2 linked regions of the Homo sapiens genome follow. The protein of the gene in region 1 interacts with the protein of each later gene in a biochemical or structural test. Each region holds a gene or a part of one and is shown on either strand. Other genes may lie near its edges.

The links.
Region 2: the proteins of REG3A (region 1) and SDC2 form a complex in vitro, tested with the Homo sapiens proteins (one study listed by BioGRID).

The regions. Positions count from the first base shown.
Region 1 is NC_000002.12:79,156,754-79,164,172, reverse strand, and holds REG3A (regenerating islet-derived protein 3-alpha precursor), read left to right. Parts: upstream 1-4,419; 5' UTR 4,420-4,445; exon of another isoform or gene 4,446-4,733; 5' UTR 4,734-4,767; coding exon 4,768-4,843; intron 4,844-5,403; coding exon 5,404-5,522; intron 5,523-5,709; coding exon 5,710-5,847; intron 5,848-6,474; coding exon 6,475-6,601; intron 6,602-6,879; coding exon 6,880-6,947; 3' UTR 6,948-7,167; downstream 7,168-7,419. UniProt on the Homo sapiens protein: Acts as a hormone in response to different stimuli like anti-inflammatory signals, such as IL17A, or gut microbiome. Secreted by different cell types to activate its receptor EXTL3 and induce cell specific signaling pathways.
Region 2 is NC_000008.11:96,587,808-96,594,832, reverse strand, and holds part of SDC2 (syndecan-2 precursor), read right to left. Parts: intron 1,354-7,025; coding exon 1,242-1,353; intron 1-1,241. UniProt on the Homo sapiens protein: Cell surface proteoglycan which regulates dendritic arbor morphogenesis.

The sequences.
Region 1 (7,419 bases):
ATATTGAAGCCAAAAGAGCTGCAAGACAGGACCCTCCATCAGAAATGCTTATAGAGGGACCCCTAGTGTGGGGTAACCCCCTCCAGGAAACCAAGCCCCAGTACTCAGCAGGATGAATAGAATGGGGAACCTCATGAGGACATACTTTCCTCCCCTGAGGATGGCTAGCCACCAAAGAAGGAAAAATACTTTTGCCTGCAGCTAACCAATGGAAATTACTTAAAACCCTTCACCAAAACTTTCACTTAGACATTGATAGCACCCATCAGATGGCCAAATTATTATTTACTGGACCAGGCCTTTTCAAAACTATCAAGCAGATAGTCAGGGCCTGTGAAGTGTGCCAAAGAAATAACCCCTGCACTGCAGGCCATACCTTTCAATCCCTGTACCTTTAACCTCCTTGTTAAGTTTGTCTCTTCCAGAATCGAAGCTGTAAAACTACAAATGGTTCTTCAAATGGAGCCCCAGATGCAGTCCATGACTAAGATCTACTGCAGACCCCTGGACTGGCCTGCTAGCCTCATGCTCCAATGTTAATGACATTGAAGGCAACTCTCCCGAGGAAATCTCAACTGCACAACCCCTACTACACCCCAGTTCAGCAGGAAGCAGTTAGAGCAATCATTGGCCAACCTCCCCAACAGCACTTGGGTTTTCCTGTTGAGAGGGGGGACTGAGAGCAGGACTAGCTGGATTTCCTAGGCTGACTAAGAATCCCTAAGCCTAGCTGGGAAGGTGACTGCACCCACCTTTAAACACGGGGCTTGCAACTTAGTTCACACCTGACCAATCAAGTAGTAAAGAGAGCTCACTAAAATGCTAATTAGGCAAAAACAGGAGGTAAAGAAATAGCCAATCATCTATCACCTGAGAGCACAGCGTGGGGGACAATGATCAGGATATAAACCCAGGCATTTGAGCCAGCAATGGCTACCCTCTTTGGGTCCCCTCCCTTTGTATGGGAGCTCTGTTTACACTCTATTAAACCTTGCAACTGCAAAATATATATATATATATGAAAAATAATTATAAAATTGGTAATGGAGAAGCATGGAAATAAGTGGGACTGAGGAATAACATAAATGGACTACTATTTATTTATCATTTTATTAATATTATTTTTTAAAATAATATTAATTATTATTATTTATAATTTTATTATATTTATCATTTTATTAATGATATTATTTATTATATCATTTATTATTTATCATTTTATTAATCATTAATATTAATGTATTATTTATCATTTTATTAATATTAATTTGATTGTATTACTTCTTTTTGCTTCATTTCTCTAAAAAATAAAGCTAAAAAAGATGGCAAGATATTATCGCTGTAGATTCTAGATGGTCAACCTATACTTGTTTGTTAAATGTTTTCTGTATGATAAAGATAATTTATTACAAAAAGAAAAGCAACATGACTATGGAATTATTTCTTATTTTTATTTTTATTTGCTACCACAAGAAATGTGAACTCTGATACATTGTGAACAGTTCAGATCTGCAAAATTATCACCCACAAGCTGTTTGAGTATGATTTATGGTAATTAATTGAAAACATTATCTTAATTTTTTCCCAAATGAACATTTTGTATTATAACTAGCTTATTCTAAAAGAAAAATCAATAAAAAGCAATAGCCTTTTTAAAATACCCAAATAGATAACGTTAGAAGAGCAAACATGATATGAACAGGGAACTCTTCCAAGATCAATGTGAAAATTTGAAACCAAATAAATATTAACACAGTTTTCTGATAAAAATTATTGCCTCCAATAACTGCACAGGTCATATGATAGTTACTGTTCATGGCTTACGTATAATTGACCAAATTTCAGTAGCTATGTTATCAGCTTTCCAGTTCTTTGATGTTAATAACTTCCCTCATTGGCCTCAGGGGCTTTGAAGTTTTGTCCCTTTTTCCTGTTTTATAGTTGCTCAGCACCTAATCTTATCCCTTTCCCAATTCTTCTGACAGTGTTAGGATAAGATGAAAGGACCAAAGTGGCATTCTGGACATCTGGTTAATATATCTCAAAGGGGTGCACTTTAGTGATAAATCTCCAGTGAGATACAGTTCAAGGCTATTTTTGACATGGACCCTGCTGAGCCATCTTCCAGGAAACCTCTACATTTTACCATCCTTGAAACAAATATATTAGGCTCCTGCAAAGAGATCAGTTTTCACTTTTATAATTCTAAGAATGACTACTAAGTCTTATCTGCAAATATCTGATTCAGAAGATAATAGGGATAAAAGTACAAATTGGACATCTTTTGGCAAAGGAAGCTCCTTAAAACTCAGCCTTGGTTACATCAAGAATAAGAATTCCTGTGTCATCCCTAAGAAGTAGATTTTTATATAACTCAAAACCAGCTCAAGAAATATAATATTTAAACAAACTTCTCAGTGCTTGGTTAATAAGCATTGTTATGAAGAAACAATGAAAAATAAAACAAAAACAACTCAACTTTAGTGAGTTTAGTGAGTGTCATTGCAAAGAAAATTTCACATTGCACTTAGGGATTTTATAACCTTAAGGCTTATTACAAAGGTCACACTATTTCAATTAAGAACAAAAGTGAGTTTTAATAATAAACTGTCAGCATTTCAAATCTTCTCTCCTAGGTATCTTGAAATATACAACATATTGTTGTTAACTATAGTCACCCTATGTGCTATCAAAAGCTAGAACATATTCCTCCTATCTAGCTGTATGTTTGTACGATGAACTAAACTCTTTTCATCTCCCCTCACCCGTCTCAGCCTCTGGTAACTATTCTACCCTCTGGTTACCTTCTACCCCGTACCTCCATGTGTTTACATATTGTTGTATAAATTTTGTGGAAAAAAATCCTTTTTAACAAAATAATCTGCTGGCTATATTTCTTCTCATATTATTTGAGGAATTGCATTGAATTTTGGGTACTGAATTTTGAGGACGTGAATTAAGGATGAGCTACATCTCATGACCTCGTCACAGACCCCTACTATAAACATCTGCATACAAGTTGGCATATTACAACAATAGCATGAGAGTCAGGGTCTGTAGAAATTCCCAGCCTAACTTTTTCCTGGACTGGCCAAACTGAACCTGAACCAGTGTATGGGCAATGTAGTATGCTTGTCAGAGGCACCAAACTGCTAACTCAAAAATAAACATGACTAAAAGAACTTCTCCCAGTATACCCATATGAAGCTGACCATTTGCCCAGTAAGAATGCAATGAAAAGGGCTTTTAATGTACAGCCAAATGGCAGTCCAGCAAGGAAGCTCATGAGCAACCTACAAGTAGTGAGCATTTTGATGTAATAGAGACTTACATGCAATTCAGAATTATGTTTACAACATCACAAAACAAAAATTTAGAGATAGGCTCTCACTCTGTTGCCTAAGCTGGAGTGCAGTGGGATGATCATAACTTACTGCAGCCTTGAACTCCTGGGTTCAACTGAAGGTCCTCCTACCTCAGCCTGCTGAGTAGCTAGGACCACAAGCACACACCACCGCAACTGGCTTAAATTAAAATATAAATTGTAGAGATAGGGTCTTAATGTGTTGCCCAGGCTGCTCTTGAACTCCTTGCTTCAGGTGATCCTCCCACCTCAGCCTCTCAAAGTGCTGGGATTATAGACCTGAGCCACAGCACCTGGCCAACTGACCTATGATTTTACACAATGGCTGCTCTTCCCTTCTTTAACTATTATTCATTCTTCTTTGATCCTCATTATTTGACTGTAGTCCTTCTTATGTCTTGTTTTCCTTCATTACCTCTTATTCTATCACATTGCCATTGTCATTCTCCACTGGGGAAGCTCTTTCTTGCTGAAGACTGGAAAGACAAGTCCATTCACCTGATTTTCTGTAAGATTGTGGCTCATGTATTGACTTGTCAGACAATTCTGAAGTTTCATCAAAATTAGCTATCATGCTTGCATAATGGCCCTGAACCCTCACTCCTACTCTTAGCTTCAGTACCATCTATGTCCTCAACTGTCCATGATACTTATAATTCCCGTAAATCTTCACTTAACACCTAACATTTATTTAATCTTACTAGGCAAGGTAATAAGAAATACATAGGTTTGCCTCCAGAAGTGGGTTCTTAAGAAACCCACCAGAGGAACTCCTCTTTCAGATGTCCACATTAGAAGATTTCATATCACATTTGGTGCCACAGGCCTTTGACAAGGAGGATGCAGAGGAAAAAGCAAACTTCACCTCTTCCTAGGGAAAGTGTTGGCCTGCCAACAGGAAAGAGGCAACATCTGGGAAAATCCCCAGTCTTTGCCAGGAAGAGTCCATGCCAACCCCACCCCATGACCCCTGTCCTGCCTACTCATTGTCACTCTTCACTCCAATGTCCCTCCCCCAGATCCTCTTATAAAATCCCACTCTTTCCTGACCAGACAAACCATACCATATCCCACCAGAGAGGTAAGTGGGAGCTGAGAGAAGATGAGACCCAGGGAGGAGCTACTGCACATGACACAGGAGAATACATGGGAGGGTCCCTTCCTCAGGGAGCACAGGAACTCTGAGACTCAGCAAGGGTGTCCTGGGAGGGCTCGGGGATGGGAGAGTACACAGATTCACAACTCATTCAGAACTGTAGAAGATGATGGATGTGACCAAGATCACTTTAGTCCTAGGGGACTAGAGAAGGAAAATGACATGAGGCAGTGGGGTATCTGTGTGTTCTCCCACTGACCACGCTTTCTTTAGTGACTCCTGATTGCCTCCTCAAGTCGCAGACACTATGCTGCCTCCCATGGCCCTGCCCAGTGTATCTTGGATGCTGCTTTCCTGCCTCATGCTGCTGTCTCAGGTTCAAGGTGAGATTGCTTTGCCTCTAGCACTGGGTTCCCTATGAATCCTCAGAGCTAACAAGAGGAGGAAGGCTCCTGTGTGTCATGTGAGGTAATGACGTGGTGTCTAATGAACCTGCCTGCAGTTCTTGCATCATCTCTCCTTCCTTCAGGTTAACTTGCAGTGGGAGGCTCCATGGTGGTCCACTAACAGTGGAATGAGATGGCTTCCATTTAGTCAGTGGACTCTAATATACACTGGTGGGAAAGTGGACTCTAATATACACTGGAGGGTCAGTAATGAGATGTGGGGAGGGACAATGATTGGAGGACCCAATGTAGAGACAGCCCAGAGTGAGGAGAGTATTGAATGGTTGAATAAGGGGAAAGGGTAATAAGAGACTGGATGGTGCTCCATTTACTACGGCTATTTTGAGATAAAGAATTTCTGAAAACATAAGGGAAGATGAAGGGGTGTCAGGAATGTGGTCTTCCTCCCCAAGGACATTCCTAGGTATTCCCCAAGGTCATCTCCCACCCCAAGCCCCACTCTTCATTTTACCCTCCCCCCTCTTCTTCCACCTCAGGTGAAGAACCCCAGAGGGAACTGCCCTCTGCACGGATCCGCTGTCCCAAAGGCTCCAAGGCCTATGGCTCCCACTGCTATGCCTTGTTTTTGTCACCAAAATCCTGGACAGATGCAGATGTGAGTGGTTAGATGTGGTGTTGGAGGTGACCGGTCTCAGGGGGAGGAGGGTCTCCATTCAGGAGAGTTCCTTGGGAATGAGGATGAACACGTTTATCTTTCACACAGTCCTCCTCCCACCTACCTTTGCCCTGCCCTCCCTCAGCAGGTCTCAGGCTCCCTCTCATTCTCTTTGTTGCCCTCAAAGCTGGCCTGCCAGAAGCGGCCCTCTGGAAACCTGGTGTCTGTGCTCAGTGGGGCTGAGGGATCCTTCGTGTCCTCCCTGGTGAAGAGCATTGGTAACAGCTACTCATACGTCTGGATTGGGCTCCATGACCCCACACAGGTGCCAGTATATCCTCCCCTCTCTGTTACCTCTCAAGGTGCTATTGTTGCCCAGGCCCACTCCCTGTCCCCTGTGCCTGCCCAGGAAGTACTTCAGGGAGCACTGGAGCTCAGATTCTGGGGAATATTTGGGGGGAAAGGGAAGGCCATGAAGCATCTGAAGATCTGAGTTCTGTGGAGGTCTCTATCTTTCAGATAAAATCAATCTGCCTTCCTCAGGCGTATTACATAATTCTCATATGAGGCTGGGTTAACAATTCTCTGAGCTTCATGGAGTCTTTGCCTACTATTCTGAAGGAACTCTTAATGAAGATAGGATCAATTTTTGTCCCCATACAGAACTGACATTACTTTTGAGGTTCACAAGCTAATCACAAATGCTACATCAATTATTGTTCTGCAAATAATATATTACCTTGAGTTGTTCCAAAGGTCTTATGTTTATTGGCTGGAATTTTCCAATAGCAATGAGGAGTCAAGGAAGAGTTTCCTACTCACCGGCAGCATCTGGAATAGCAGACCAACTTTCCTCATGCTGGGGAGCAAATCAGGTGTTGCAGCTAAGGGGCCATGCAAGAAGAGCTGCAATGGCCATTCCCTTCACCTGGCTACCTCCTCTACTCTACAGGGCACCGAGCCCAATGGAGAAGGTTGGGAGTGGAGTAGCAGTGATGTGATGAATTACTTTGCATGGGAGAGAAATCCCTCCACCATCTCAAGCCCCGGCCACTGTGCGAGCCTGTCGAGAAGCACAGGTAAGAAACAGAGGAGCTGCCTCTTCCCAGTGTTTTCCATCTCATCCCCCATTCCTGGGTCTGACCTTCAGGAAATCTTCCTGAGCTAGAAAATACAATGTTAGTGTGTCTTCTCTTATCTCCTCTCTTCTCCACTTTCTTTGAATCTCTCTCCTGGATTGGGACACTGGTGAAGGTGAGGGAGAGGCTTTAACTTCTAGGCTAAAACCTGGGATGCCCCTTCATTGGATTCACAAGCTTCCTCAGCCCCATTCCATTTATGTCTTCTGTCTCTCCAGCATTTCTGAGGTGGAAAGATTATAACTGTAATGTGAGGTTACCCTATGTCTGCAAGTTCACTGACTAGTGCAGGAGGGAAGTCAGCAGCCTGTGTTTGGTGTGCAACTCATCATGGGCATGAGACCAGTGTGAGGACTCACCCTGGAAGAGAATATTCGCTTAATTCCCCCAACCTGACCACCTCATTCTTATCTTTCTTCTGTTTCTTCCTCCCCGCTGTCATTTCAGTCTCTTCATTTTGTCATACGGCCTAAGGCTTTAAAGAGCAATAAAATTTTTAGTCTGCACTTGTTTGTCTTGTATATGCCAGTGTCATAGCCATACTCTGAGAAGGACAAAGTGTTTGAGTGGAGGAAACTTTATGGGTCTTGCTTCTTCCCTATTCACCCAGGCCTCTAGGGAAAATGATGAAGTGTGCATCCCTACCAGTGTGTTATGATGAGGGTGTGGGTCCTGCTCATGTAGGATTTGTGTTGTGGAGAGATGAGGACATTTCTCTCCCGCGTACTTACTGCCCTCCCATTCCCGTAGCCCAAACC
Region 2 (7,025 bases), on another chromosome or scaffold:
CCACCATGTGAAGAAGTACATGTTTGTTTCCCCTTCTGCCATGACTGTAAGTTTCCTGAGACCTCCCCAGGCATGCTGAACTGTGAGTCAACTAAACCTCTTTTCTTTTATAAATTACCCAGTCCCTGTGTTGTTAGCAGGGTGAGAATGAACTCATACAGGGGCCATTCTGAGAACAGGGGAAATATTCATCAATTATGGTAGATTGTAAATGTGACCAGAATCCCTTAATCCTCCGTGTATACATATCCTCTGTAAATGTGACTTTATGAATCCTTTCACTAAGAGGTGGAGTCTGTTCTGGCCTTCTGACTTGCTTCAACCAGTAAAATGTAGTAAAAGTGATGCTGTGCCCAGTTCTAAGGCCTGGCTGCAAGAGGCTTTGCACACTTCTACTTGCTGTTACTGTGAAAAAATAGCTTGCCTACTGGAGAATGAGAGACCACACGAACAGAACCCAAGTCTGCTCAGCTGCCCCAGGGATATGAGTACCCGAAAGCTGCAAACCCAACCTAAAGCTGTACACTCAACCGGCAGCTGACCACTGACATGTGAGGGAGCCCAGCCAGCCCAGCCTACATCACCAACCTACAGAATAATAAGTTAAATGAATGACTGTTACTTTAAGCCACCAAGTTTTGGGGTGGTTTATTATGTAGCCTTAGAGTGGTAACAGATAACTATTAAGGAATAATATACTAAGGAATCTGATCATGTCACTACATAATCATTTTACTTGGCTGCTGCATTTTCCTCCTACAATACCCTAGGAATAAAAACGTATTAACTTCTTGGTCTCATCTACAATTTTTAACATAGGGTAGGTGGTTTTATGAAACCAGTGTTTGAGGGATTTCTTGAAGGGTGGTTTCCATGACATCACTCTGAAAGTCTTAATACGATTAAAAGCTAATGTTGACAGAGCACTATGTGCCAAGCCCCCAAATCTAAGAGCTTTAGATGTGTCAACTCCCTTTTAATCCTCACAACAACTCTATGGTAAGGACTATTGTTACTTTCCATTTTATAAAGGAGGAAACTGAGGCTCAGCAAATAAATTCTCAAGATCTCACAGCGTAAGTGGCAGAGAGAGCTAGAATTAGCACCCAGGCCCTTTGATTCCAAAGACGGTGCCCTTAACCACTGTGCATCCTGCCTGTCTCCTTGAAGTAAGCACAGTAAAATGTGTGTGCGTGCATGCCTGGAGAATGAGGTCCAGTGTTTAGAAGCAGCCACCTTACCCGAGCCAGACGCAGAAGCGTAGTCATCGTCATCAATAGGATACACTCCTGAAGCTTCTTCAATGGAGCTGTTGTCAAGGTACATGTCTTTATCAGATGTCAGCTCTGCTCTCTGAGAAAGGAAAGACAAGGGAGTCAGGATGTTGAGAGATTAAGAAACACACTTGTATATCTGATTGTTCAGGTACATACTGCAGTGACTACCCCTCCCACTCCCACAGTAGTCTGAATCCACATCTCTGGCCACAGTCTTCCTCAGGCACCCTGACAACTTAACAGCAATTTGAGAGGTGAGCACGGACTAATAACCTGCAAGGGAAGCCTACACAGCTTAAACCAGTAGAATGAAAACATTTCGGAGATCTAAACTCCTATCTTGGGCTTATTTTGTTGCATTCCACTAAACTTACCTGACTTTCAGCCATCCCAATGCTAGTTATAAGCCATCTTGGGCATTCTCTTTGTCACTCCCTTACTGGAAAGGGAACAAAACACTTAGGACTTTCTTGGGGATGTATGCAAAGGTATTACGGCTTAGCTTAGGCTAAATAATCACCCAGGGATCCATCAAATCCTACCAGTGCTTGCAGGCCTGGCAATACTCAGAACTTTACCGCTACAGATGAGAGATCCCCAGTCACCTGGGTCCTCAGGCCATGCAGGCCTTTCTACCCCAGCCCAGACCTGTGCTGAGGCCAGCCACAGTGCCCGGAGAGGAGCAGCGCCCGTGAGGCTCACCTGACAGGGAGAAAGCCCACTGCACGCCTGCTTCTAGGGCTCATTGGCTTAGCAAAGCCTTAATGACAAATACAGATAAACCCACACGAGCACATTCTTTTTCTATTACTGGCAACTGGTAATAGCAAATCACACGCTTAATATGGAGAGGGATCAGTCACTAAGTATACCAGTTCCACAGCTTCTTAACTCTTCAGTAAGAGTTTAGTATTAAAATTCAACCTAATCCTGCCAAAAGAAGAACTTGCATGAACTGGAGACAGAGTAGAGGTATAAGACTTTAAAAAATGGTTTTAGTAAATTGATATTTTACTACCATTATCTCGCAAAAGCCCAGGAAAAAAATAATAAAGCAGACAGGCAGCTTTTAAACAACGCTTGTTTGGAAACAGGCAACACTCATTATTGCTCTATTTTTAAAAATCATATAGAATGTTTGCTCTTAACAGAAATTATAAAATAATGTTTCCCTTACTACACTGGCTTTCATTAGATTTAATCTTAAAATAAAATTTTCTCTTCCAGCAGTCGCTGTGATTGGAACCTTCCTAAGAGGACAGGTCCAACCCTCTGTAACAGTACCACTTTATTTTCTCAGGTTTCAGCAGCTGGCTAGCAAGGCTAAAGCACTTTAAACCTGAGCCCACATTCTCCACCAGGCCTCAGTGCCAACTGAAAGCAAAGCATGGGAATCTATTTTGTTTGAGCTATCACACTGGTGGATTCTGAGAACTGAAACCTTAGGGACTGGTGTTCCAGTGGCCTGGACCACCCTGAGCCAAGAGTGTGCTGCAACTTTTCTAGTAGAATGGTCAGAGCTTAACTCTGCAATCTGACGCCACCCTGTTTCACTGGTTTCCAAGGCTATCACCATTCCAGATTGTAATTCCCAAAGCTTGTGAACTGTGTCAGGAGCCCTGTGTTCTACAGCTCTATCATCAACTGCCTCCTCTTAGGCTCTCAGCTCCTTTAAAGGCAAGGCTTCCCTCCCCCAGTCACAGTGCCTGGCATATAGTAGATGCTCAGTAAACACCGCTTGGGTTGAACCACCATTCGTGCTCCCATGAAAAAGCCATTCTCCGTCCTGCTTGTCTTAAACTTTGTCCCATTTACTTCCCCTGGAGGACCTCCTGGTTTCTTCTCTCAAATCCTGGCTACTATGAAACAGGCTGTGACTTCTCCACTCCTTATACACCTCCTAATTATAAAGTACTATTTTAGGATTTTGTAGCATATGAACAGTTTAAGACATAAACCCTCACTGTTACTTTTCATTGTTTCATGTGCATTTTTCTTGCCCCTCAGCAGAGTACAACTCATTGAAGGCATGTTTTGAATGACCTGTGTTCTCTGTCCCTCTCAAAATGCATGGCCACAAAATAAATATTTGACTGAGATTACTTAAACCAAATTGGCCTTGGACTGAGGTTTCAGAGTTACATGTCACAAGACCTCCAGGATCCTCGTAGTTTAAAATCTCTCCATTTTAAGCCTAGGAGACCATCTGCCCCAAACCTCCTATAGCTTGCATTGCATCTATTTAAGTAACCTACAGTCTTAAAAGTAAGCAAAATATTCCCTTTCCATGTTAGAATCTTGTTTCCCTTTTCTTAACATTGAATGACTTTCATTTTCCTCTTGGCTCTGTCAATGAAGTTTGATGTGGCAAGGGTAATACTGAGATACTTAATCCCTATGTGTAAATTGAATTTCAATTCATTCGATGACCCAGTTGTCTGGACTAACACATCTGTCATGCTACCAGGCAGATGGGCCAAAAATGCCTCCCAGAGAATTCTAGCCACCTCACCGTTCAACCACACTGGCAGTCTGACAAGCCAACTGACTTCCTGGGACAGCCGTCAGGCCTGTATTTCAACAAGACTTGGGGTGGAAGTCAGGGTGTGTCTAGAGAAGCTGGCTTACCCTCAGCCACTCAGTTACTTGGGGTCTACAGGGCTCCCGGGTGGTCTCTGGGCTGACCAGATGTTTAATGTGTTTAAAGGCAGCCAAAAGTGTGTTTCTCTGTGATCCAGGGTGGTGAAAATAATTTTGAAATCAAAGTTCTCTCCCACTCTGATTTCAGGAGCACAAAGAACATAGGAGAAATTACCAATATCTTTCCATGAAGTCCAATTTAACATAAAGCAGGGCCCTTTTCACTCTGTAGCAGATAATGAATACCTCTATTGCCTTCCCCTTTAAAAAATAAAAAATAAAAAAAAACCCCTGCGCTCATGACAAATTCCTTTTATGAAGACTCCACACTCTGTTCTGAAAGGTTTCTGGAATGAACATGCCTAGGACGGGAAATGATTTATGCACCAATATTCCCTTGGGACAAGGAGACAAGCATCTCCTCAAGGCCATGAAAAGGGGTGAATTCGAAACTACCGATTTTACACCTGGCGAAATGTAGTCTGCTTGACTGAGGAGAAAACCTCGGGACATACTCTGCACACACTCCCTTACTCAATGGGACCGAGACGCTGGACGAAAGCAACTGGAAGGAAACGTGCAGAAGCACAAGTCCAGAGCTGCAGCCTGGCTGTAGGGTGTCATAACGAGGCTGTTTAATTTGGGACTGACCATCGCTGTGAGGCAGTGCCAATACTGTTGGCTAACAGGGTCCAGAGTACAAGCTGGGAGAAAAACAAAGCTGGTCTTTCAGACCTTTCCCTTTTGGCTGATGCAAGATGTGAATACAGGAGAGCAAAGGAAGGCTGTGGAAAGCAACAAGGTACGACCAAGAGGAAAATGTGCGGCAGACAGATAGAGGGTTCTGCGTAATGCCACATTCAGCCAGGGAAACTGAAGCACTACACTGCCTCCATAGATGAAATTCCCAGAGGAGAATGCGCATCTGATTCAGTTGTGTAAACCCACAATGCCTAGAAGGAAGGCAAGATACATACTTGTCTCCTATCTCCACCCCTTTGCCTCTGGCCCCCCGGCTCTGGCTAACTCATCATGTTGGGCCTGGACCTGGACTAAGGCCTCCTGACCTTGTCACTGCCCACGTCCGTGTCTTTGAAGCCATTCGATGCAGAGGGACTGTTCTTGAACTCAAACATCATCGTATCACTCTCCTGCCTTTATTGGCTCCCTGCCACATAGAGGATGACATAAAAACTCCTTAGTTGGGCCTAGCACAGTGGCTCACGCCTGTAATCCCAGCACTTTGGGAGGCCAAGGCGGGCGGATCACCTGAGGTCAGGAGTTTGAGACCAGCCTGGCCAACATGGTGAAACTCCTTTACCAAAAATTACAAAAATTAGGCGGGTGTGGTGGCAGGTGCCTGTAATCCCAGCTACTCGCAAGGCTGAGGCAGGAGAATCACTTGAACCTGGGAGGCAGAGGCTGCAGTGAGCCAAGACTGCGCCACTGTACTCCAGCCTGGGAGACAGAGCAAGGAGACTCTGTCTCAAAAAACAAACAACAAACAAACAAACAAACAAACAAACAAAACAAAAGTCCTTAGCCTGGAAAAAAGTTCTTTACCAAGTGGCCTCAGCTGCAGTTCTAGTCTCAGCTGCTGCTGCTGCTTCCTCTACCCAAACCCCAGGCACCAATACAAAAACACCAAGAAGAGATCTGGTGACACTACTTTCCTTCGTATTATACCCCTAAGAGGAAATAAACACCTTTAGGTTGGAAAATTGAGGACAGCGATGGTGATTTAGGCCTTCCACATTTGATGATAAAAATTTAGAGTTTGATAAAATGATTCAGCCCAAACTTATACGGTAGTTGTAATAAAAATGACAAGAACAAGTGTTAATTCAATACACAAAAGATCAAGTGTAGTAGAGTCTTGATGTAGTCAGAAACATCACAAACCTGTCCATTTTCTCAGCGAAGACAATTTGTAGGATAGCAACTGAACAAATCTATTTGTTTGATTTTTCTCATGTAGGTAAAACCTACACTGAACAAATACCATGTTTCAAACTGCCAGTGTGGAAATCTGTTATTTAGAAATTCAAAGCCTTGTTTAAAAAACACAACGCCTTACCTACTAAGCAGAGGTCCTGCACATGCTTTCAACCAGTGCAACCAACACAGTGGTCAAAATAATTAAAGCTCAAATTAGTAAATGTCGAATTTACTTTATGGTTTTAACTCAGGTTAACAACGAAAGCAGAAGGTAGAAAACTTAATTATGGATAACTCAGACTCCCAGACCCAACTTTCAGAAAATTAGCCTTTGAACATAAAAATAAAATATCCATGTGGCCTAATAATACATTTCTGTATCACATCACAGACAACAAACATCTAGATGATGCCTCCTGTTTTACGGTAAAGGCAGTCCAACTCCAATTATGACTCAAATGTATATTAACTTTTATGATGATTACAAAGTGCCAAAAAGGCTATAACTGTAGCTTATCTTTCCATAGGTGACTCAGTAAACTATTTTATTACTAGCAACACACATTGTAAAGGAAATAATAATTAGCTAAAAATTTATGTCACCCACACAGTCACTCAGAGATGATATACCTGTCCTTAAGCTAAACTTGTCAATTCTGGCTTAGGTCTAGCCCAAAGGAACATACAATTTTAGAGCTTGACTGGACACTATAGTCACCAAGATCACTGATTTATTTCACAAATGAAGAAACAGAACACCAGAGTAGCAAAGTAGCTCAAAAGTCCTCTGGTCTAGCTGGTGGCCAAACTGGAGCCCGAAGCTCTTGACACCTAAGTGTGGGCTCTTTCTGCTGCACTGTCATGCCCCACAACATGAGTGACATCAGACCATTCAGCCTCGGGTTCAAAAGGATTAGCTGTGGCTGTTAGGTGTTTATTACGTGCCAGGCATTTTGTGCTTAGCATTTTATTAAGCATTGGCTCATCTAATCATCTCAACAATCTCCAGGGCCTACCCAGGAGATTGTTGCCTGAAATCATACAGCTCCAAAAGTAGGGACTTGGGACCTCAAAATGTATGTCACTGAGCATGTTCAACATGCTGCCTACCTCGTCCCTCCCTTTTCCTGTGATTCACACATAATAATAATAAAGGACTGGGGAAGAACT